Linked DNA regions of Homo sapiens. The protein of the gene in region 3 purifies or fractionates together with the protein of the main gene of each other region. This does not show direct contact. Each region holds a gene or a part of one and is shown on either strand. Other genes may lie near its edges.

Region 1 (3,027 bases), on a different chromosome or scaffold from region 3:
TTACAGGCATGCACCACCACGCCTGGCTAATTTTGTATTTTTAGTAGAGACAGGGTTTCACTGTGTTGCCCAGGATGATCTCGAACTCCTGATCTCAGGTGATCCGCCTGCCTCAGCCTCCCAAAGTGCTGGGATTACAGGTGTGAGCCACTGCGTCCGGACCTCTCTGCCTTTCTTCTGTGTCTCTTCCCATCTCTCTGTGCTGTCTTCATCTGGCTTTTCTCTGTTCCGTCCCTGCCTTTTGCTCTCCTTCCTTTCCCTCTGCCTCTCTCCTTTAAGTCTCTGTGTGTTTTGCTGATTCTCTTTCTCCCTCTGAGTCTCTCTGAACCTCGCTTCCTCTCTCTCTCCTCCCTCTCTCCGAGTCTCTCTGTGCCCGTGCTTCCCGCTTCCTCTCTCTCTCCTCCCTTTTTCTCTTTCAGTCCCTGCTTCTGCCTTGGCTCAGTTTGTTGTTTGTTTGTTTGTTTGTTTCTGAGAAGGAGTCTCGCTCTGTCATCCAGTCTGGAGTGCAGTGGCACGATCTCAGCTCACTGCAACCTCCACCTCCCAGGTTCAAGTGATCCTCCCGCCTCAGCCTCCCGAGTAGCTGGGACTACAGGCGCACACCACCAAGCCCAGCTAATTTTTATACTTTTAGTAGAAACGGGGTTTCACCATGTTGTCCAGGCTGGTCTTGAACTCCTGACCTCAAGTGATCTGCCCGCCTCGGCCTCCCAAAGTGCTGGGATCACAGGCATGAGCCATGGCACCAGCCTTGCCTTGGCTCTTGATGCCTCTGTTGGCCTCAGCTCAGCCCCTCTTTCCTCTCCCCAGGCCGGGCACTGCTGCGGCTGAATGCGGAGAAGCTGCAGCGGATGGGGCTGGCCCAGGAGGCCCAGAGGCAGGAGGTGCTGCAGCAGGTGCTCCGCCTGCAGGTGCGTGAGGAGGGGCGGAGCCTGCAGCTGCTCAGCCAAGGTCAGTGTGAGGTGCCAGAGAGGCCTGGGGGCTGATGGAGAAGCCCCTCTGAGTGTGGGGTGGGATGACCTCAGGAGGTCGGCTGCAGGCCCCAGTAAGCGCCCTAATGCAGATGATGCCAAAGACCCCACCCCATTCTCACCCTCTTCCATCACACAGCTTCCTTCGGGAAAATGTCCTAGCTGCTGCTGAGGCTTGAACCCAGACCCCAGCACTGTGATGGGAGTCCACGGCTAGGGAGGAGGCCAAGCTGGCCCCGCAGCGCCTCTTGGACCCTGCGGGATGCCGGGGCGGCCAGGCTGGCCCAACGGACAGACAGGACCAGGATCACACCTCCAGGCGCCTCTGGTTGGACATTCCAGGTCGTGCCCTGGGGCTGGGTGGGTAGGGGGCTGCTTGAGTGTGGCCCCACCTCCTGGGACCTGAGCCCAAGCCCTCCCCTGGTGCAGCTGGCAGCATGTGGGGCAGCTGCCTGGAGCCAGAACCGGTTTGGATGTCCCCCCTAGACTCCCAGGGAGTCTGTTTATTTACATTCCCCTCTCCACGTGATGTCGGTCCCCCATCGCCTGCTGAGTCACTTGTCTGTCCACCCACCCAGCCCAGTTCTAGGTCGTTCCCCAGCACCTCCAGGTTGGCCCACACAGGTACCATAAGCTGCCTCGGCTCCCTGTGGCTTGTGCCCATGCACCTGCCAGGGCCCAGCAGGCCAACCCATCATCTAGAGTAGTGGCCATCAGCACCCGCCTAACGGGCACCATGCCAAGCACTTTCATCATTATTTATACATCGTCACCACACCCCCTCTATTCATGAGAAGTAAAGCTGAGAAAGGACCAGATTGACCAAGCGCCAGAGACAAAATGTGGCACAACGAGAACCCCAGCCCTGTCCAGGTGGCTCCGCGCCCAGGGCCCAGGCTTAGCAGTGCTCCCTGCCCTATCTTTGGGAAAATCTTGCTTTTATGGTCTTCCCCCCTCGCCCTCAAGAACAAGGGCCTTGTGCGTGGGCCTTCCCATTGCTGCTTTCCCAAGAAGGCCTGGATTCAGGGGAGAGGCCTTCCCAGGGCCACTCCCCTTACACCCTCCCAGAGGCCTGAGCAACCCCTCTCTGGGTGGTTTGGGGCTGGTGCTGCCTGGCGGAAGGACAGTGAGGGCGGCCCTAGCCGCCTCCACCCTCTTGCGCCTCTGCCCTCTCCCAGTCCCCCTGTGGCTTCTGAAAATCTCAGGGACAGATGAGGCTGAGCCCCTAGTCCCCTCTGTGTGCTTTGAGCCTCCAGACTCGAGGCTGGTCACTGCAGGTCCCAGGTGGAATTTGGACAACTGGCCTGGCCGCTCCCATCCTGTAAGCCCCCACCACGGGGAGACCCTCATCCCTGCCCCTGTGTGGCTGCGCAAGTATTCTGCCCGCCTCCCACCATCAGCCTTCGCCCAAGGGGCCCTTCTGCCTCTGCTTCCCTCCCTTCTCCTCTGTCTTGCCCTGGCCCACGCACGCCTGTCTCGTCTTCCTTGTTTTGCTGCACTCACTTTTTTATACTCTGACAAAAAAAAAAAATCAGAAATAAAGCTGGTTCCCAAGTGCTGGCGGTGCTGGGTCTGCGAGGAGAGGGCGTCTGGGCAGCCGCGGCCACCAGGGGGCAGTGGCGTCACGCCCTGGAGGGGCGTCTGGGCAACCCCGCGCAGAGGCTGGAAACAGGGCTCAAGTCACGCCTGTGGGCGGTCCCCAGTGCTGGACACAACGCCCGACACGCTGGAAGGGACGGCCCAGACAGCGCGTGAGGGTCCCGCGGCTGCCGTGACAGAGGACCACGGAGGGGTGCTGAGAACAGCAGACATTCATTCTCTCTGGAGTTCTGGAGGCCGCAGTCCAAAATCCAGCTCCCTCAGGGCCTCCTGGGGCGACTCCTCACCTCTCCAGCTTCCAGTGGCTGCCGGGGGAACTCGGGCGCATGGGCATTACCCGTCTCCGCCTCTGTAATCAGATCACCTCCTCCTCTTCTGTCTCTCAAATCTCCCTCTGTCTCTCTCTTATAAGGATGCTTGGATTTGGGGCCACCTGGGTAATACAGGATAATCTCCT
Region 2 (3,500 bases), about 26 Mb from region 3:
CTCATTGTATTAGTTCATTCTCACACTGCTAATAAAAACATACCTGAGACTGGGTAATTTATAAAGGAAAGAGTTTTAATTGACTCACAGTTCCACAGGGCTGGGGAGGCCTCAGGATCCCTGCAATTATGGCCGAAGGGGAAGCAAACCCGTCCTTCTTCTCATGGTGGCAGGAAGGGGAAGGAGTGCCAAGCAAAGGGGGAAGCCCCTTATAAAACCACCAGATGTCATGAGAACTCACTCACTATCTGGAGAACAGCATGGGGGAAACTGCCTGCATGATTCAATTATCTCCACCTGGTCCTGCCCTTGACATGTGGGGATTATTACAATTCTAGGTGAGATTTGGGTGGGGACACAGAGCCAAACAATATGACTCATGAACCTTCCTGCCTTTCTTAGGAGACACTCATCCCAGCTGCACGTGTAACTTGGTAAGGTTTTGAGGTCATTTAGAAGTAGCCAGGTAAATTATTATTGTCATCTACTCAGATTTATCCTGCAGTCTTCAGCCAACGCTGAATGCCATGGTTGGTAGCATTTCCCAAATGGTGGTAGCATCAGTGAAGTCCAAGAACCAGTTCCTGTGCTGATGTTAAGATTCTTGAAGGACTTAAATAGTAGTATGATACAAATGAGTTACAAGATCATTGAAAATTTTTGTCAGCATTAGGGAACTCTATAATCTACTAATTATTATTATTATTATTGCAAATAATTAGTTTAAATCAAATGGCAATTGTCCAGTCCAGATAAATATTGTTTTTACTACTTCTCCCTTTGGAAAGAGATAATATATTGTGTTCTAATCAAGGAGGACTTGGTTAACAAGGAGCTATCTCCCCGCTTATGTGGGGACAGGAAATATATTGCTGTTATGCTTTGGTGCTTCAGGATCTTAAATGGTTGAGACTGTCATTATGACCTTTGATATATGTTAGAAATGCCCAGGAAGCTGTGGAAGGTGGATTGTCTGCAAGATGTGCAGAATATCCTGGTAGTGTCCACATAATGTAAAAGCACAAGTGTTTGAGCTACTTGTGGTTTTTCTTATTTGGAGTGGAGAAGAGTAAAACAATTTTACTTGCACGCACACACACTATACACATACCCAGATGATTGATAGACATACCAGGGGTTTTGTGCTTACTTTGCCTTCAGCCTCTCAGAGACTGATTACGTTTGGAAAATTGAAATAGCCCAACAGGAACCTTACAGAGGATGTTAACCTCAGAAGCTTTTTAGTTTCTTCTTTTGTATTTGTCCTGTATTTACGTCTTTCAGTAAAGTAAAAACTCAGTTATTGACTTGAATTGCTTTGGAAGCATTGAAGTCTTCCACCAAATTGATTCATTACTGTACTAATTCAGTTCATTCCAGTGGTCTGAATCTCCTATTCCATGGTTTAATCATCACTCTGGCTCCTTCTGCATATGAAGCTATTGCATCTTACTGGTCCTACATTGAAGTGTATTGTATCTGTTTGTACAACCGATCATACATTTTAAGTTTTTATATTTCTCCATCTACCTTGTTTCTTCACAGAGCTACAGGCAACCAGCTGCTTTCATCGTCACACAATACCCTCTGCCAAACACTGTAAAAGACTTCTGGAGATTAGTGTATGATTATGGCTGTACCTCCATTGTGATGTTAAACGAAGTCGACTTGTCCCAGGTTAATGGCTATGGATTGCTTTTATGTACTTATATACAACTTAATAGAGTAGTAATGAATTGCTAAAATCTGCTTTATACTCTCCTAACTAGAAAAAATAATACTCTTTTTTTTTTTCTTTCAAAACGTTCATCATTTAGGGCTGCCCTCAGTACTGGCCAGAGGAAGGGATGCTACGATATGGCCCCATCCAAGTGGAATGTATGTCTTGTTCAATGGACTGTGATGTGATCAACCGGATTTTTAGGATATGCAATCTAACAAGAGTAAGTCACTATCGGATCCTTTGAGCTGATCTAGAATAGGTCAGTCATAACCAAGATGTGGTATAATTTTATTCAGACAACAGGGAGACTACAATTAATAAGCACTATATCATCCACCTCAAAGCTAGTAACCATCTTATGCCTTAGTACTCGAATAAAAATACAGGAAAACAGAAATGCTGGAAGCTAGGTTTTTCGGTCAGTCACTAGACTAGCATATTCTCTCAGGAAATACAGATGCACTGGCTCAGTCAAGTTGGACAGCCTAGGCCTGGCCTCTGAGTGTATGTAGACTTATCTTAAGGATGACTGCATGTTTTATTAGTATTGACATCCAGCCCAGAAATGGCATGTGATAAAAAAAATAAGAACATTGCAATAACAATAATGACAGAGAAACTGTACTGCAGGAGGAAAGAGACATGTTGGATCAACCATTATAGAAGGGTTCCATGTCACTGTTCCAAGTTCATTATTGATTATCCTACCTGCAATTTCATCTTCCTAAACGTCTCAACCTATGGCTCTAAGCAGATCTAAAGGTAGAACCAGTGCTGCTACCACCATGCCTTTTCCCAGCAGCAAAGTAGTAACTGTATCGTCTTTCTCTGACTCCTCATTTGCTTTCCACTACATGACAAATTCAATGTGGGTGGGGAAGATCTTAAAAAAAAAAGTGCTAATAAAGCCCGGGCACAGTGCCTCATGCCTGTAATTCCAGCACTTTGGGAGGCCAAGGCGGGCAGATCATAAGGTCAGGAGTTCAAGACCAGCCTGGCAACGTGGTGAAACCCCATCTCTACTAAAAATACAAAAATTAGCTGGACATGGTGGTGGCATGCCTGTAGTCCCAGCTAGTGGGGAGGCTGAGGCAGCAGAATCATTTGAACCCGGGAGGCAGAAGTTGTAGTGAGCTGAGATCACGCCACTGCACCCCAGGCTGTATAGAGCGAGACTTCGTCCCCCAAAAAAAGATATTAATAAAAACAATTTAGATTATGTAACCAAATAACAAGCAGAATTGGAAAAGAAAACATTAGTAACTTTCATGAAATTAAGCTCTTTTTAGAGAGAAACATTACTCTGTTTTTTAAAGCACCAGCTCTGTGGGTATGTATTTTAAGTGTGTGATTAGGATTATCATGTTTCAGTGTCTCTCATATCAAAATGACTACGTGTGTGTCTGGTTAATAAGTCTATATGTATATAACTATGAGCAGGGAATGGAATCATATCGACTCCTATTGCTCATTTCAGTGGAGAAAAAAAGGATAACTTCAATCATCTCATAATATTCATGCATATCTTAGATGTTAATTTAAATGGAATCTCATTATGTCTGCACATCTGTTACATTATGGTTCTAGTAATATTTGAGTTGGAAAAAAACAGAACTGCTGAAGACAGTAAGGCTTGTCTGTTAATTGAGCAGTTTATGTGAAAAATATTCTAGGAACAGGAACTGAAATGTTATATTTTTGTCAGCATATTTATTTATTTGTTTGCTTACTTATTGAACTGCCTCTGTATTTGGTATTCTGGTCCTTATTAGTACAT
Region 3 (3,500 bases):
GCCATTACAGACTAGGTATGCCTAGAACTTTATCTAAAGAATTGGCCACATTTTAGAAAATCATACTGCTGACATCGACCCCTTTCCTGGTATTGAACTGCCAATGCAGCAGGTCTGAATTGGTAACTACCACATTCATGGTGATTTTTCACATATTTATATTTATACACACACATACAAAGTATGTGCCCTGCTTAGTAGTTTAATTACATCTTGTAATATAACCATGCTAGAATATGTACATATGAAAATAATTATTTCATTATAAAATATCTTATCTGTTTCAGTTAGAACGTCACTGATGGGTATGTTTTAGAGGCTAGTTATATTACCTGCTAGTTTCATTTCAGAATAGTAAATGGAGTGATGTTTTTATGAGTGAAGGTAAGCTTCATCATCCATGATTTTCATTTGAAGATTGAAAAGTGATGCTATAAAATATTATAATAGGGGTAGGTGTTGAGTTGTGTCTGGGAGAGTTTTAACAATCACTCTTGTAAAGTATCCTGTCAAGGAGTTCAAGATCAGCCTGGCCAACATGGTGAAACTCCATCTCTACTAAAAATACAAAAATTAGCCAGGTGTGGTGGCGGGCACCTGTAATCCCAGCTACTTGGGAGGCTGAGGCAGGAGAATTGCCTGAACCTGGGAGGCAGAGGCTGCAGTGAGTTGAGATTGTACCACTGCACTCTAGCCTGGGTGACAGAGTGAGAATCTGTCTCAGAAAAAAAAAAAAATTTTTTTTAAAGAAATAAAAATAAAGAATCCTGTCAAAAAGCATCATCAAGCAACTTCATATGTGAACACACGTCCACAATTAAACCTGGATTACTACTGAGGCAAGCAGTTTCCATTAATTTCTAAGAAATCCATATTAAACTATTATTTATGTATGTCCATAGTAGAGGTTTACAAAGGTTTTTTTTTTTTAGCAGCAATATATTTTTCAAACACAATTCAGGAGAAAACCTCAAATAAAAAGAAAGATGAAGCTGTGGAGGGTGACTGCAAGTAGAGGAGCCAGGAACTTCTCTCGCGGGTCCTGGGACTCCAGGGAACAAAGGCTGAAAAGCACCAATCTGGTTGGCCACTGCCTATAATGAAGACTGACTGCCGAATATTCACTTAAAGGATGGCTGTTCAATTCACAAGTGGCATTTTCCCCACAGAAAAAGAGCTCACCAGCCAGCTAAGGCCTCCAGAGTGATTTAACTCATCATCCAGTGGAACTACAGCTCTTAGAGTTCTCCCCACAATCTGGGGAGTAAGAGGAGATGTTGCCACCCACTTCCTGGGCATAAAGCCAGCTCAAGACAAGAGTAAAACAGGCAGGGCTGGCTCGCCCCTCGTACACAGCTCCCTCCTCATCACCAGTGCCCTACACGAGACCTCCCCAGCCCACACCCCACCCTCCTAGTGTGTTGAACACCCTGTGGTCACACACTGCAAGCCTCTTCTCTCCATCTGCCAAACACCCTTGGGTCTCCATGTCTCCATGAAATACCAGATCTTTTTCTTTTTGTTTTTTTTTTGAGACAGAGTCTCCTTCTGTCACCCAGGCTGGAGTGCAGTGGCCTGATCTTGGCTCACTACAACCTCCGCCTCCAGGGTTCAAGTGATTCTCCTGCCTCAGCCTCCCGAGTAGCTGGGACTACAGGTGCCCACCACCATGCGAAGCTGATTTTTAGTAGAGACAGGGTTTCACCATGTTGGCCAGGCTGGTCTTGAACTCCTGACCCCAGGTAATCCACCCACCTTGGCCCCCCAAAGTTCTGGAATTACAGGCATGAGCCACTGCGCCAGGCCGAAATACCAGATCTTCATGGCAGTTGTCTTAGAGGTAGAGAAGAAAACAGCCAGACTGAGCCGGGTGTGGTGGCTCATGCCTGTAATCCCAGCACTTTGGGAGGCTGAGGCCGGCAGATCAGTTGAGGTTGGGAGTTTGAGACCAGCCTGGCCAACGTAGTGAAACCCCGTCTCCACTAAAAATACAAAAATTAGCCAGGCATGGTGGCGGGCACCTATAATCCCAGCTACATGGGAGGCTGAGGCAGGAGAATCGCTTGAACCTGGAAGGTGGAGGTTGCAGTGAGCTGAGATTGCGCCACTGCACTCCAGCCTGGGTGACAGATTGAGACTCCATCTCAAAAACAAACAAACAAACAAAAAAAACCAGCCTGACTGAATTCAGTCACAGTAATTATACATGAGTGGTTGCTAGTTCCTTTAACCACACCAGAAGCATTTTAAAGGGAAGATGTTTCCTAACTCCAGTGATTTTCATGGGCTGAATTCCAGGCAGTTCAGCAAACTCAACAATTCCGGTGGTATGAGAAAGGGCATTTTGGAGTAGGAGATTTCGGCTCTGCCTAGGAAGATACCTCAGAAAATTCCCCTCGTGCAATTTCACTTTGCATATGCTTCTCCTGTTCTTCCATTTCTAATCCATAAAATCCCAAAATGCTTGGGAGGGTTTATTTTGATTTTTTTTAACAATACTGCCCTGCTGGCAACAGCCACGATAGTCACTTGCTCATCTGAAAATGCCTTGCACTTTCTTTTTCACTAGCTTCGTGTATGACGCAAAACAGAAATATTTCAATTACAGGTGACTAAGAGTAAGAAAAATATACAACTATATTTAAAATACTTAAATTAACAAGATAGTACTTTTCCATTCTAACAAAATATCATACATTCAGTTTAAACAAGAGTTAATATCCAGACACACGTTTTCAAAATACCTGATGCTAGTTGAAAATTAGTGACCATGAGGCTTTCCAAGATATTTCTAATTAGCAAACTGTGTACAATTTTGAAGAAGTGTACACACCGTGCTGGAAGACAGACACTGAACAGGTCAAAATGCAAACTCATGTATCTTTCATCAACCTAAATCTTGTTGCTTCACTTTTCTAAATGATACTTTGGCTGTCAGCGAATCTTATAGCTTCTTTTCCCTTAAAGACAATAATATATAACAACACCACCCCACACAAATAACCATAAACTTCTTTGTGTGAAATAAGCCCTATCAAAATGTGTTCATGTATTTCTGTACCAACTGATCTATACTGAGACTGTCATGAAAAAGGTATCAAACAAGTGTAACAGGCCTACACTTAAACCTCTGCCTCAAAGGAGAAATCAGATACTTGCCACGTTATTGCAAAGTCAAAGCTGCTACACTTAAAATATGGTAGATAGTTTAGAAAAATCAAATCAAAAATGTTTTCTCACTGGCTTTTTCAGATAAAGAAGTTGGACCACAAACCAACACATCTGTGTGAAAACAGCCACCAATTTGAGTCCCCCCAGCCCCTCAAAAAGGAACAATGCCACCAGTCCCTCACAATGACCATAACGTCTCTGGCCAGGACTGCGATTTCTAGCGCGTGTCTTCACATTCTATCTCTGGGGAAGCAAGACAAACAGGCTCTACCCATTTCCCTCCTTTTGTCTCCACAAGCCAGCACCTAAGATCCTCTGAATTTGTTCCC
Region 4 (4,219 bases), on a different chromosome or scaffold from region 3:
AGCCGCCATGTTCTCAGCTCACTGTAACCTTGGCCTCCCGGGTTCAAGCGACGTTCCTACCTCAGCTCCCCCAGGTAGCTGGGATTACAGGCATGTGCCACTACTCCCGGCTAATTTTTGTGTTTTTAGTAGAGACGGGGTTTCGCCATGTTGGCCAGGCTGGTCTCGAACTCTTGACCTCAGGTGATCCGCCCACCTTGGCCTCCCAAAGTGCTGGGATCATAGGTGTGAGCCACTGCACCTAGCCTTGGACCCTCTTCATATTAAATTAAAATTAATGTTTTTGGAACACCTATTAGGCCACAGAGTGAGGAGGATGAGTTAAAGTAAGTTCCCTCCTTGTAAGTAGTTAGAAGTATAGAAAGAAAGAAGTGGACCTGCTCTCTATTGTCTTTTTCTTTTCTTTAGACGGAGTGTTTGCTCTCTTGCCCGGGCTGGAGTGCAATGACGCGATCTCAGCTTACTGTAACCTCTGCCTCCTGGGTTCAAGTGATTCTCCTGCCTCAGCCTCTTGAGTAGCTAGGAGTACAGGCATCCGCCACCACGCCCGGCTAATTTTTGTATTTTTATTGGAGACGGGGTTTCACCATGTTGGCCAGGCTGGCCTAGTACTCTTTTTTTTTTTTTTTTGAGTCGGAGTCTCGCGCTCACGCTCAGGCTGGAGTGCAGTGGCGTGATCTTGGCTCACTGCAAGCTCCGCCTCCCGGGTTCACGCCATTCTCCTGCCTCAGCCTCCCGAGTAGCTGGGACTACAGGCGCCCGCCACCACGCCCGGCTAATTTTTTGTACTTTTAGTAGAGACGGGGTTTCACCGTGTCAGCCAGGATGGTCTCGATCTCCTGACTTCGTGATCCACCCGTCTCGGCCTCCCAAAGTGCTGGGATTACAGGCGTGAGCCACCGCGCCCGGTCGGCTAGCCTGGTACTCTTAACCTCAGGTGATCCACCAGCCTCAGCCTCCCAAAGTGCTAGGATTACAGGCGAGAGCCACCGCGCCTGTCTTTTTAAAAGCTAAAACTGAAACGGAAACAGAGCTCCTGGCAGATAGGACCAGGAGCCACAGCGAAGGAGGTGGCCTGTGATTAGGTTTTTATAAATGGGCAGGTATTAATCAGGGAAAATGGAGTAAAGGACACGATAGACATACATTGCTAAGTCTAGTATTGGAAAAAGTAAGGCCTGGGACCCCTAAAAACTTGCTCGAGAGTGAAAGGTAAATGCTATGTGTCCACACTACTGTGGTAAAGCCGACAGTCCATACCATGAGCCCATTTCGCGCAGGGAAATTCGAGTGGTGGGCTTGGGCCCGTCGTTCTGGTAGCTTCCCAGTAGAGGGCGCCGTAAGCATATGCGTCTTCAGCCTGACTGGGCTGGAGAGGCGGTGCGTCCTCCTGGCCGGGGGGCGGGGGCCGTCGCGCTCACGTGACCTTTGCTCATGGCGGCGGCGGCGGCGGCGGCGGTGCTGGTGGTGCTCGGCGGCCGGAGCCGGATCCTGTAGCCGGGTGTGGGCCCGTGTCTGTCCGTCCCTCCTTCGGCCCCCTCTCTTGTCTTCCGGAGTGTGGCTGGCGGAGCTGGGATGGCGGAACGAGGCCTGGAGCCGTCGCCGGCCGCGGTGGCGGCGCTGCCGCCTGAAGTGCGGGCGCAGCTGGCGGAGCTGGAGCTGGAGCTCTCGGAGGGTAGGAGCCGGGCCGGGGAGAGGGCGCCCGGGGCCCTGCGGATCGCGGCGACTTGGGAGACAGGTCCCCGCCGCGCGCTCTGGCGGCCGTGCGGCGAGGGGGACGAGGGTGTAGAGAACCTGGCCTGGCGCTCCACGACCGTTTTCCCTCCTCTCCCACCCCATTAAGTGGTTTCCTGTGGCTTTCATTGTTTTCCCATGGAGGGGACTAAGTAAGGGCTTGTGGAAAGGTCCTCCCGGGCCCACACTGCTTCTGCGCTTCCTGCCCCCCAAAACCCGAGACAAAGCTGCGCCCTCCCGCTTCTGCCCAGGCGTCTGGCCCAGGTGGGGTGAGGGGTAGGGCTGCGAGGAGGGTGGCTGACAGCTTTCTCCTTTCCTCTCCCCTTTTCGTGGAGGGCTCCACGCCTTGTTCCAGCCCCCCCTTCCCCCTTTCAAAAAGAGACACATGGGAAATCCGCAGCATCATTTCTTCTCTTTCCTTTAACAATGCGCGATGCCTCCCCAGTGACAGGAGTGAGACACAAGCGGGTGAGCCATTTAGGGTCCTAGGAAGATAAGAAGCAATGGCATTAACCCAGAGAGACACACGGTGCTGCTTTTAGACCACCTTTGTCATAAGAAGTTTTTTTTTTTCCTGGTGCCTGTTATTCGGGCCGAATTTTCCGCATCTGGTCACCTTTTGGAGTCTTTGATGAAGGAAGGAGAGGAGGCTACCGTTTACTTGCAAATCCTGGCTGGCATTCTTTCTTTTGACAATGGATTGGGACAGGGAGGGTTCGATTTATTTTCAGAATTAAAAAAAAAAAATGGGATAAATCAAGCCACTGTTATTAGAGAACTCCTTGTACAACAATGAGAGAAACACAGTGCTCCGTTGTGGGCATGTGATCAGGCTTCTGGGGCAGTTGTGATCAGTTCTGTGTAAAGTTCCTGTTTTTATCACTGGCTGCCCCTGAGACAAAAGCAGCATTTTCTCCAAGCTTGATACCAGTACTTTGATTGTGTCTCCAGAGTTGCATATTCTTACTGAGTTCCTTGTGGAAGGCCCTCTTCACTAGCATTTTTCAAGTGGATCAAAAACTCTTGATTGGAAAAGAAGAATGTGACCAACTCCCAGGAGCTTATTAAACATTACTTATTGTTTACTTATTAAGGCATTATGGTTCCCTCCCCTCTGAGAATCCTTTACAATGAAAAACCAAAAATAGAGTTGAATGTTATAAATCCTGTTGGGCACTGAAGGAAATAATTATTTTTAATAACCCTTTTAATAACCCAATGTGTAGGAAAGTGCTGTTTTTACCTGTACTTAACTATCAACATGTTATTTTTCAATTAATCCAATTTTCAAGTTATTCTTCGGCCAGTCCCGGGAATCACTGGTATTAGATTAGTTTGTTTCTGTGAAGTGTTTAAGAAGATAGGAATCCTCTGGGTTTGTCTGCCCAGTTATACCTTAAGTTCCCCCCGCTTCGAAAATCGAGGAGCTTTTTGCATTACCATCAATTCTGTCTCTCAAGATAACTCATTCTTCTCCTAGACTAAAGCATTGACATTAAATCTGTGTTGACTTGCATTAAAATCTGACTTTTAAAACTGCTATTTGAAAGTAACAAATCATCTAGCTTTGATTAGAGAGAGGTTTGCCTGGATGCTTGCGTCAGAGGGAGATTAAAAATAGGAGTTGATTGCTTTCACACGGAGAGGGAAATCCTGGAAGCTCCTTATTCTGGGTATATCTGCTTCCAGCTGATTGTTGTTTACATCTCTGGGTGTTTCTAGACATCTCTAGAATGTCTAGAAACATTCTGAGGAACTATTTCTAGGACCCACACTGATTAGCTCACCTCTCTCTCCTTCAGAAAGGTGTGAAACTTCTACAAATTGTGAATGCCAAGGCTTAAACATTTTAAGGACAAGTGCATGGTTTGCTTTCCAATGAAGGATTATTTTGGTTGGCATCTGACTTGGTTTGAATTTGTTTCTTATAGATATACTACACTTCTTGTATTTCATTTGTTTTAGCAATGGATGACTGGAAAAAATACAATTGAAAAACTTGGGCCTGCAGTGTCAGCATATTGGTCATCTTTCTTGCTTAAAGTACAGGGGATGGTTGGCTGGAGAAGTGGATAGACATTAGGAATTCAAGTGAAGTTAAAATAATCCAAAAGTCCCCATATCTGTGTAGTATGGTGTTATTTGTGATGCCTGTAGCATATTTGGAGCTAAGGTTTGTTCGTTTTGCATTTTCTCTACAGTTACTCTGCTCTAACATAAGTACTTTGTCTTTTTTTGTTTTAGATGCTTTTCTTTCGTTTGTTTTTTTTGAGATGGAGTCTCACACTGTTGCCCGATTTTAGCTTACCGCAACCTCCGCCTCCCAGGGTCAAGCAGTTCTCCTGCCTCAGCCTCCCCAGTAGCTGGGATTACAGGCAAGCGCCACTACTGCCGGGCTAATTTTTTTTGTATTTATAGTAGAGACCGGGTTTCACCGTGTTGGCCAGGCTGATCTTAAACTCCTGACCTCAAATGATCCACCAAC
Region 5 (3,401 bases), on a different chromosome or scaffold from region 3:
GCTATAGAAGAGATAGAAATATATTCATATTCTGTAGCTTTTTTTTTTTTGAGATGGAGTTTTGCTCTTGTCACCCAAGCTGGAGTGCAGTGATGCAATCTCAGCTCACTGCAAACTTTGCCTCCTGGGTTCAAGGGATTCTCCTGCCTCAGCCTCCCGATAACTGGGACTACAGGCTACAGGCATGTGTCACTACTCCTGGTTAATTTTTTTTTTTTTTTTAAGACTGAGTCTTGCTCTGTCTTTCAGGCTGATGTACAATGGCTCCATCTCGGCTCACTACAACTTCTGTCCCCCAGGTTCAAGCGATTCTCCTGCCTCAGCCTCATGAGTAGCTGGGATTACAGGCATGTGCCAGCACACCCAGCAAATTTTTGTATTTTTAGTAGAGATGAGGTCTTACCATGTTGGCCAGGCTGGTCTCAAACTCCTGACCTCAGGTGATCCTTTGGCCTCAGCCTCCCTAACTGCTGGGATTACAGGCATGAGCCACTGCGTCCAGCCTAATTTTATATTTTTGGTAGAGATGGGGTTTCACCATATTGGCCAGGCTGGTCTCGAACTCATGACCTAAGGTGATCCATCCTCCTCAGCCTCTCAAAGTGCTGGGATTACAAGTGTGAGCCACTGGGCCTGGTGCTTTTTTTTTTTTTTTTTTTTTTTTTTTTGAGATAGGGTCTCACTCTGTCACCCAGGCTGAAATGCAGTAGTGTGATTTTGGCTCATTGCAGCCTTGACTTCCCAGGCTGAAGTGATCCTCCCACCTCAGCCTCCTGAGTAGCTGGGGCTACAGGCATGCACCACCATGCTGCGCTAATTTTTATATTTTTTGTAGTGGTGGGATTTCGCCATATCACCCTGGCTGGTCTGGAACCCCTGGGCTCAAGCGATCCACTCGCTTCAGCTTCTCAAAGTGCTGGGATTACAGGCATGAGCCACAGCGCCCAGGCTGTAGCTCTCTTAAGGAGGAACATATCTCATCTGAGACAAACCTGAAATGCCAAACCAAACTGAGTTAGCCCCTCTCTGTCTGTTGTATATATTGGAGTAATAACCTATTTGTCTTGATAAAGGGATTGCATGCTTGAATTGCAAAAACCTTTATTTCTTTTGGGTTGCCCAATGTGCAAGACTAAGAGTTATTTTGATAAATTTCTCACCAGGCTGACTGTCTCTCTGTGGGGTCGGGGGAGTTTTCAGGGTCTCACGTATTGCAGGGAAGGTTTGGTTGTGAGATCGAGAATAACAGAAGCAGCGGAGCATTCTGGAAATATTACTATGATGGAAAGGACTACATTGAATTCAACAAAGAAATCCCAGCCTGGGTCCCCTTCGACCCAGCAGCCCAGATAACCAAGCAGAAGTGGGAGGCAGAACCAGTCTACGTGCAGCGGGCCAAGGCTTACCTGGAGGAGGAGTGCCCTGCGACTCTGCGGAAATACCTGAAATACAGCAAAAATATCCTGGACCGGCAAGGTACTCACTGCTTCCTGCTCCCCAGTACTGAGCCCAGAATAAAAGACGATCTCAGGCTAGGAGCTCAGGCAACATCTTAGTCCGGTCTCATCTGTTCCTGGATGTCCCTCAGACCCCCAGCTTTCATCTTTTAGGATTTATTCCTTCCCTGGGATAATATAATTTGTGGTCCAAAAAGAACATCATCAAAATTTCAGGCAGAATGGGCCAGGAAGGCCATTCTTTCTTGATGAGTGTCCCCAAATCATCTCCAATTAACAGACAAGGAGCTTGAGGTTAGGGAGGTGAGGGTAACACTGTCTGTAAGAGGCAGAGCTGGGACTCAAATTCCAGATTTCAGATTCCAAATCCCATCGTTTTTTATCTCTACAATGATGCCTCCCATCTGGGTGGTGGAGAGAAGGGAGGCGTGTAAAATGTCAGCCCCAGAAGGACAAGAGCAAGCCAGTGTGAGCGGAATTGATGGCTGCAAGCTGAGACTTGGATTGGAGACGTAGTGAGACTCAGGATTGTGCAGTGCTGCAGGGAAGTGGTTGCTGGATAGAGGCATGGGCTGAACCAAGCAGCTGGACTGAGACTGGGGGACAGAACTCCAAAGCCCACTGAGATGTGGGAAAACATGGAGAAGCACACGGAGCATTCACAACTTATTGCCGTCAGAGTCAATACATGGGTGAGGTGGGGATTGGGCAAGAGGGAAAGCGTCAGCCTTCCCTGATATTCTGGAAAGTCTCCCGGGGCTGGGGGTGGGCAGGTACAGAGCTTCGAGCTCTGCTGATCGCTGACATCCAGGGGTGGGGGTAGGAAGAGACCTGGGCCGGGAGAAGTCCACCTCAAGCCTGCAGTGTCACACTCTATCCCTCCACAGATCCTCCCTCTGTGGTGGTCACCAGCCACCAGGCCCCAGGAGAAAAGAAGAAACTGAAGTGCCTGGCCTACGACTTCTACCCAGGGAAAATTGATGTGCACTGGACTCGGGCCGGCGAGGTGCAGGAGCCTGAGTTACGGGGAGATGTTCTTCACAATGGAAATGGCACTTACCAGTCCTGGGTGGTGGTGGCAGTGCCCCCGCAGGACACAGCCCCCTACTCCTGCCACGTGCAGCACAGCAGCCTGGCCCAGCCCCTCGTGGTGCCCTGGGAGGCCAGCTAGGAAGCAAGGGTTGGAGGCAATGTGGGATCTCAGACCCAGTAGCTGCCCTTCCTGCCTGATGTGGGAGCTGAACCACAGAAATCACAGTCAATGGATCCACAAGGCCTGAGGAGCAGTGTGGGGGGACAGACAGGAGGTGGATTTGGAGACCGAAGACTGGGATGCCTGTCTTGAGTAGACTTGGACCCAAAAAATCATCTCACCTTGAGCCCACCCCCACCCCATTGTCTAATCTGTAGAAGCTAATAAATAATCATCCCTCCTTGCCTAGCATAACAGAGAATCCTTTTTTTAACGGTGATGCGCTGTAGAAATGTGACTAGATTTTCTCATTGGTTCTGCCCTCAAGCACTGAATTCATCTGAAACTCTTGGTTTCCCCTGGAGGCCATGGTTCCTGGGCACCTTGACCTGGGCAATCCCAAGTGTGGCCTGAACCCCCTTTCCCTTGGGGATTGTTCAGGTGTCCCTAGACGCCTTGTGGTATTGTACCTAATACCCATGAAGGGAGAGGATGATATTACTTGCCAGTGTACACCCCCCTGTGATATTGTTCATAATGTCCAGAGTGAAGAAAGATGATATTACTCCCAATATCACAGAAGGTGTACACCCCCCCTTGATATTGTTCCTAATACCCAGTTGGGGAGGGGAGAATATCTCTCCCAATATACAAGGGGTGTTTAAACTCTCTGTGATATTGTTCCTAATATTCAGGGGGGACAAGGATGATATTACCCAAATATTGCAGGGGTTGTACACCCCCCCTTTGAT
Region 6 (2,862 bases), on a different chromosome or scaffold from region 3:
AAATTGTTGGGTTAATGAAGCACTAAATGAAATACTAAAGCCAGAAGCTTCAGCCTGAAATCATTCTTTTTGGGCTCTTCAGTAGCATCACTTCTTTCTACTCCACCAAACACTGAGAGGCGGGCTCATCTCAGGATCAGAGATGGAAAGGCCTCTTCTAGAGTTATTGGCCACTCCCTCTCTCCTAATGAGCAGAGCGGGCAGAGAGGCCGGGCACACTCTGACTTGTAGGTAACCAGTTTCCTCACATCCCTGCCCACACCACAGTTTTGGCTTTTCAACAATAAAGCTGTCTCTCTATCCTAGGACTCTCTTACGGGGAACAGTAAAACTGCAACATGATCACGTACCCAAAGAGTGCATTCCCAGCAAGATATATTAGCAGCTGTTGCCTCTTTACATGATCTCCTCTCTCCCTCATTCCCCTAGCTATGGAAAACTTTCCATCTGAGTCCTTAGGAAAAGATGGAGGGTGTGTGAAATGAGAGACCGAGACATGCTGCCATCTCAGAAGGGCTTTATTTCTACTTCATCACGGTCTCATACAGACCCAGAGGCATCATCATGTGTTTCCATTTGGTATCCTTGTGACTTTTTGTAGTGTTTTCCCTTAAGAAAACTTTGAGTAAACTCTGTACATTGCCAGTTAATCTTTTCACAATAATTTAAAAATGGTGTTGCTGTTGGATCATCGATGCAAGAAGACCAACAATAAAAGTACAGTACAAGGAAATTCACAACATATTACAGTGGAACAGACTGAGTCACATTTAGGTGATGGCGAGGACACAGTAGCGGTATATACATGCACCCGAAGACGTGCAAGCCAAGTAGGATAATATAAGGATCATACAGTGAATTTTCTAAGCCCACTGAGGACTTTGTACCTTTTCAAAATCATCCTGTATCCCCTCCAGCATACAGAATATCTGTCTTGTCTACTGGCTTCATGGCTTTTTCACTACAAAAAGTTCACTGAATCAGACAGTCTGAAGCATTAAAAAATTCGTAAAAAACAGTAACACTGACAAAATAAAATTAACTTAATCCACTCTAATTCAACATGGAAATAAACTGAACCAAAATGTAACAGTGCAAATTTAACAGAGGCAGTCAGGTATTGACAGCGAGGGTGTTCAGAATCTCTTAAAATGTACATTTTTTAAAACTTTTATTTTTTAAATCTATTTATACCTTATTTACCTTTTCGTTTAATATACTGTGTGTAAAAAAGATGGAGACAAAAATAGTTTTCTGAGCTATGAAAAAAATTAAGTTATTACAGGCACATTTACTGTTTCATTCTAGAAACATCTCAGTTTCACAGGTTGAACATTCAGCAGCTTTGTGTTTTTAAAAAACATTCTTTGACCTTGAGAAAACTAGATCTCTCCTGTTGGGCAGAGTTTTGTTCATGGTGATGGTGTGGTTATGCAAATTACAGTGAATTATACTGTGATAATCCATGCAAGCTTGCATCTCGGTGTGGCTGCTCCTCGGGCGGCTCCTCGCCACCATGCTCCTCCAAGGACGTCGGGTCTCCGGGTGACTGAGGCTGTGAGGCAGTGGGGGAATGTGGGGCCCAACGGGACGGAGGGCGACGGTTTGCTGGTCTCTCGGGCCTGGAGAAGCAGGGCTCTAGGGATGGAGCTAGTGCAGAACAAGGTAGTTCCTTCAGAGCCGAGAAAGGGAGACAGGGTTACTCAGACCGGCAGTGTCACCAGTGGATGATTCCCCCAAACACACTTCTCAACAGACTCAAGTGAGATGAAGTATACACCACAGGCAACTCGTGAATATTAACTACTTTCTATGCTCATGCAGAATAACTTAAAATAATAAAGAATTCAACACAAATGATCAGTGACATGAATGGGAAGAGACCAATTATGATTAAACACAGCAATACTGTGAGATGAGTCAGCTTGCAAAGCTCCTTTAGAATTGGGCTGGGGTATACAGAAGGCATGACACAGTGACTGTGGCAGCGGTCTCCACAGGCCACTTCATCATATTCCTATCTGGTAGATCTGTTCATTTGGCCCTTTTGTATGATCTATTTAGCTACAGTGGACAAGTGAACTGGTCCTACAGGGCCTGGATCTACTGGGAGCCCACAAAGAGACCTCTGATTTCATTCAGCTGTGTTAGCAATGGCAGTCGTCTTAAACGAACTCTGCTACTGTTTATTTGAAATTGACTGGGAGTAGCTTAAACAAACTCCCACAACATGGCAAAAATGCTGCAGGCAGAAATTTTAATTTGGGTCTGGTTTTCTTTAATGACTGTTCAATTGCAGCAGCATTTTAAAAAGGTAGAATCAGAATGTACTGGTGGTTTTGTGTTTCAGGCATCCTAATGTTCTGCGAGCAGGTGATGCAAGACACACTCAACCATGTGCAAATCACCTAGAATCCTTATTCTCAAGCTACTTTGTTTTTAAAGAATGTTGAGCTCCTTGTCCTTACATGTTACAAAACCAGGACACCCAAATTTGGAATTTGCTGATACACAGAAATGTAAAAAGCTGTGGCATGAGAAAACTGAGTTGCCCAGCATGGAGCCCGCTGGCTGGAATGACACTCAGACACTGGAAGCTTGAGGTGAACTGAATGGAAGGCACAGGAAGGATGACAGAGAACAAGGACCCTCAAAGAAAGGAAGTGAGTTGGAGGATTTAAAAAGATGTGACAAGCAACTGAAAAGACCAGGATGAGGACAGCCCAGCCAGTGGTGCAGGGGAGCAGCAGCGGGGGAAGGACAGACGGCTGCACGGAATGGGCAGTGTCACTCGGGAGAAGATGGAACACGGCAGAGACAGCATGGCCCGAGGACAGCGTGGGAGCCACAGGCTTCCAGAAG
Region 7 (3,500 bases), on a different chromosome or scaffold from region 3:
TTCCTTAGTAAGGATTTTGATGCCCGAAAGGCCTACCTGGCTGGCTCCATCAAAGGTAAGAAGGGAAAAAACAGGCCAGGGACGGTGGCTCACGCCTGTAATCCCAACACTTTGGGAGGCCAAGGCGGGTGGATCACGAGGTCAGGAGATCGAGACCATCCTGGTTAACATGGTGAAACCTCGTCTCCACTAAAAATACAAAAAATTAGCCGGGCGTGGTGGCACCCGCCTGTGATCCCAGCTACTCGGGAGGCTGAGGCAGGAGAATCAGTTGAACCTGGAAGGCGGAGGTTGCAGTGAGCCGAGATTGTGCCACTGCACTCCGGCCTGGGCAACAGACGAGACTCCGTCTCAAAAAAAAAACAAAAAACAAAAAAAAGAAGGTAAAAACAAAACCCTTCCAACAACAAAATCCCCAAGCCAAAAACAGTCTCATTAGATCCTATTGTGCCTAATAGAATAATTACATAATTAGATTATCTAATTAGAATTATCTAGTTATTAGATAATTCTAATCCTTCCATACGTTATTTTCATTTACATATTTTTCATATCATTTGTACACAAGAGGGTGCCTTTAACCCCCGTATTTCCTTATTGAGTTAGAATTCTCTCAGAGGAAAACAGGTTTTTGTGGTGTTTGTTTCCATATTATTCTATTGGCTATTTTAGAAATATTTTCTCGCTGGTGGGCTGAATTTTGTGCCTCGAGGTCTTCATGGATTACATTTCTTTTCTTAGATCTTAGCAGTTATCTCTGTCATCTGAAGAGCCCAAGGCCTTGACCACAAACTCCTAATTTAAGTTCCAGCTGGAAAATCCAAAATGCAGACAGCTCAGGCCTAAGCCACAGACTTCAGGGTCCCTGAGCAGGAGGCGAGGGGAACTCTGAAGGCGAGGCTGCCCTCTGTCATGTCCTCCCATGGTGCCCATCTGTCTTTCCTTTTGATCCCGCTGTTCTTTGAATTTTCTCAGCATCCCTGTTGAGGTGGTAGGTGTTTGTCAGGCTAACTTAAGGACTTAAGTAATTATACTGGGGGACATGGGGGAGTTAATAGACTTTTTTTTTTCCTTTTGAGACAGGGTCTTGCTTTGTTACTGAGGCTGAAGTGCAGTGGTACAATTACGGCTCACTGTAGCCTTAACTTCCTGGGCTCAAGCAATCCTTCCACCTCAGCCTCCCGAGTAGCTGGGACTACAGGTGCACACCACCATGCCCAGCTAATTTTTTTTTTTTTTTTTTTTTTTGAGTCAAGAGTCTCACTGTGTCACCCAGGCTGGAGTGCAGTGGCACAATCTCAGCTCACTGCAACCTTTGCCTCCCAGGTTCAAGTGATTCTCGTGCCTCAGCCTCCCAAGTAGCTGGGACTACAGGCACCTGCCACCACACCCAGCTAATTTTTTTTTTTTTTTTCTTTGAGATGGAGTTTTGCTCCAACAAGTGTTGCCTAGGCTGGGTGGCGCGATCTTGGCTCACCGCATCCTCCGCCTCCTGGGTTCAAGTGCCTCAGCCTCCCAAGTAGCTGGGATTACAGGCATGTGCCACCACGCCTGCCTAATTGTGTATTTTTAGTACAGATGGGGTTTCTCCATGTTGGTCAGGCTGGTCTCGAACTCCTGACCTCAGGTGATCCGTCTGCCTCGGCCTCCCAAAGTGCTAGGATTCCAGGCATGAGCTTCCGCGCCCGGCCGCTAATTTTTGTATTTTTAGTAGAGATGGGGTTTCACCATTTTGGCCAGGCTGGTCTCGAACTCCTGACCTCAGGTTATCCACCCGCCTCGGCCTCCCAAAGTGCTGGAATTACAGGTGTGAACCACTGTGCCCAGCCTAATTTTGTATTTTTGGTAGAGATGGGGTTGCACCATGGTGGCCAGGCTGGTGTCAAACTCCTGACCTCAGATGACCTGCCTGCTTAGGCCTCCCAAAGCGCTGGGATTACAGTGTGAGACACTGTGCCCAGCCCCAGCTAATTTTTAAACATTTTTTAGAGACAGTCTCCCTGTGTTGCCCAGGCTGGTCTCAAACTCCTGGGCTCAAGTGATCCTCCCACCTTGGCCTCCCAAAGTGTTGGTATTACAGACATGAGTCACCCTGCACCTGGCAGACATTTTTTTTTTTTTTTTTAAATCAGGAAGTTTTAATGATACAGAAAGATGCTGGTTCCCTTCACATCAGTTGTTTCAGTTTTTTGTGAGTCTAGCTTCCTCTATGCATCCCATCATAGAGTCCCTTGCGGGGCAGAGCACACGTCCTGGGAAGCTGACATAGGATAGATCTACTCTTCCACCAAATAAAGTGTTTGTATGCTTTACAACATTTGCCTAAATTCTCTGTATTAAAAATAATTTTGTACGTCAGGTGCTGTGACTCACACCTGTAATCCCAACACTTTGGGAGGCTGAGGTGGGTGGATCACTTGAGGTCAGGAGTTCGAGATTAGCCTGGCCAACATGGTGAAACCCCGTCTCTACTAAAAATACAAATATTAGCCAGGTGTGGTGGTGTGTGCCTGTAATCCCAGCTACTCGGGAAGCTGAAGCAGGAGAATCGCTTGAGCCCAGGAGGCAGAGGTTGCGGTGAGCAACTATCTTGCCACTGCATTCCAGCCTGGGTGACAGAGTGAGACTCGGTCTCAAAAAAAAAAGAAAAAAGAAAAAAAGAAAAAAAAATCTTTATTTCTTTGCATGATGTGTAATGCAGTAACATTACAATTTCTCTTTTTTGAAGACATTGTATCTCAGTTTGGAATGGAAACTGTTATCTTACACACAGCACTGATGCTAAAGAAAAGAATTGTGGTGTATCACCCCAAGATAGAAGCGGTCCAGGAGTTCACCAGGTATCACCTCTAATTATAAAAAAGTGTTAACTTTGTTGGCAGACAGTTCGCAGCACTAGATGTTACTGTGTGCTCTGCTGTGTTGCACATTTGCTATAAATAGCATGTGGTGAAATACCACCTTTGGTCTGAAGTTTCTGTTTAGCTCTAGTAGTTCAAGGTTACTGATTTGGACTATTTATGACTATTTTAGAGCAGGGGATTAGCAAACTTTTCCTTGCCAGACAGTAAATATTTTAGGTTTGTGAGCCATATGGTCACTGCCCCAACTACTCAACTGCCTAGGTAGCACAAAAGCAACCATGGAGGACACGTACATAAATGACTCAGCATGGCTGTGGTCAATGAAATTTTATTTTCAAGGACAGGCAGCTAGGCTGTGGGCCATAGTTTGCTGACCCGTTTCAGGTAAATTGTTCCTTCTGTTCAGTTTTATCAAAGACTCTTTTTTTTTTCTTGTTTTAATTAAAAAGTTTTAGAGCAGGACAAAGACTCTTACTTTGATAGTACATATAGATTTTTTAAATTTTATTTTCATTTTTAGTAGAGATGGGGTCTTGCTGTGTTGCCCAGGGTGGTCTCAAACTCATAGGCTCCAGTGATCCTCATGCCTTGGCCTCCCAAAGTGCTGGAATTACGGGTGTGAGCCACTGTGCCCGG

The links.
Region 1: the proteins of CNKSR3 (region 3) and SAMD10 purify together in Homo sapiens (co-immunoprecipitation; 2 studies listed by BioGRID and IntAct, with this or other methods). This does not show direct contact.
Region 2: the proteins of CNKSR3 (region 3) and PTPRK purify together in Homo sapiens (co-immunoprecipitation; one large-scale study listed by IntAct). This does not show direct contact.
Region 4: the proteins of CNKSR3 (region 3) and DIP2B purify together in Homo sapiens (affinity purification with mass spectrometry; 2 studies listed by BioGRID and IntAct, with this or other methods). This does not show direct contact.
Region 5: the proteins of CNKSR3 (region 3) and AZGP1 purify together in Homo sapiens (co-immunoprecipitation; one large-scale study listed by IntAct). This does not show direct contact.
Region 6: the proteins of CNKSR3 (region 3) and MTCL1 purify together in Homo sapiens (co-immunoprecipitation; one large-scale study listed by IntAct). This does not show direct contact.
Region 7: the proteins of CNKSR3 (region 3) and DENND10 purify together in Homo sapiens (affinity purification with mass spectrometry; one large-scale study listed by BioGRID and IntAct). This does not show direct contact.

Annotation. Positions count from the first base shown.
Region 1 is NC_000020.11:63,973,616-63,976,642, reverse strand, and holds the end of SAMD10 (sterile alpha motif domain-containing protein 10), read left to right. Parts: intron 1-810; coding exon 811-951; intron 952-1,110; coding exon 1,111-1,133; 3' UTR 1,134-2,527; downstream 2,528-3,027.
Region 2 is NC_000006.12:127,975,100-127,978,599, reverse strand, and holds part of PTPRK (receptor-type tyrosine-protein phosphatase kappa isoform b precursor), read left to right. Parts: intron 1-1,545; coding exon 1,546-1,677; intron 1,678-1,817; coding exon 1,818-1,943; intron 1,944-3,500. UniProt on the Homo sapiens protein: Regulation of processes involving cell contact and adhesion such as growth control, tumor invasion, and metastasis. Negative regulator of EGFR signaling pathway. Forms complexes with beta-catenin and gamma-catenin/plakoglobin.
Region 3 is NC_000006.12:154,402,686-154,406,185, forward strand, and holds part of CNKSR3 (connector enhancer of kinase suppressor of ras 3), read right to left. Parts: 3' UTR 1-3,500. UniProt on the Homo sapiens protein: Involved in transepithelial sodium transport. Regulates aldosterone-induced and epithelial sodium channel (ENaC)-mediated sodium transport through regulation of ENaC cell surface expression.
Region 4 is NC_000012.12:50,503,566-50,507,784, forward strand, and holds the start of DIP2B (disco-interacting protein 2 homolog B), read left to right. Parts: upstream 1-1,419; 5' UTR 1,420-1,575; coding exon 1,576-1,675; intron 1,676-4,219. UniProt on the Homo sapiens protein: Negatively regulates axonal outgrowth and is essential for normal synaptic transmission. Not required for regulation of axon polarity. Promotes acetylation of alpha-tubulin.
Region 5 is NC_000007.14:99,966,230-99,969,630, reverse strand, and holds the end of AZGP1 (zinc-alpha-2-glycoprotein precursor), read left to right. Parts: intron 1-1,200; coding exon 1,201-1,476; intron 1,477-2,344; coding exon 2,345-2,628; 3' UTR 2,629-2,901; downstream 2,902-3,401. UniProt on the Homo sapiens protein: Stimulates lipid degradation in adipocytes and causes the extensive fat losses associated with some advanced cancers. May bind polyunsaturated fatty acids.
Region 6 is NC_000018.10:8,830,417-8,833,278, reverse strand, and holds the end of MTCL1 (microtubule cross-linking factor 1), read right to left. Parts: intron 1,673-2,862; coding exon 1,439-1,672; 3' UTR 501-1,438; downstream 1-500. UniProt on the Homo sapiens protein: Microtubule-associated factor involved in the late phase of epithelial polarization and microtubule dynamics regulation.
Region 7 is NC_000010.11:119,117,613-119,121,112, forward strand, and holds part of DENND10 (DENN domain-containing protein 10), read left to right. Parts: coding exon 1-55; intron 56-2,728; coding exon 2,729-2,840; intron 2,841-3,500. UniProt on the Homo sapiens protein: Guanine nucleotide exchange factor (GEF) regulating homeostasis of late endocytic pathway, including endosomal positioning, maturation and secretion, possibly through activating Rab proteins such as RAB27A and RAB27B.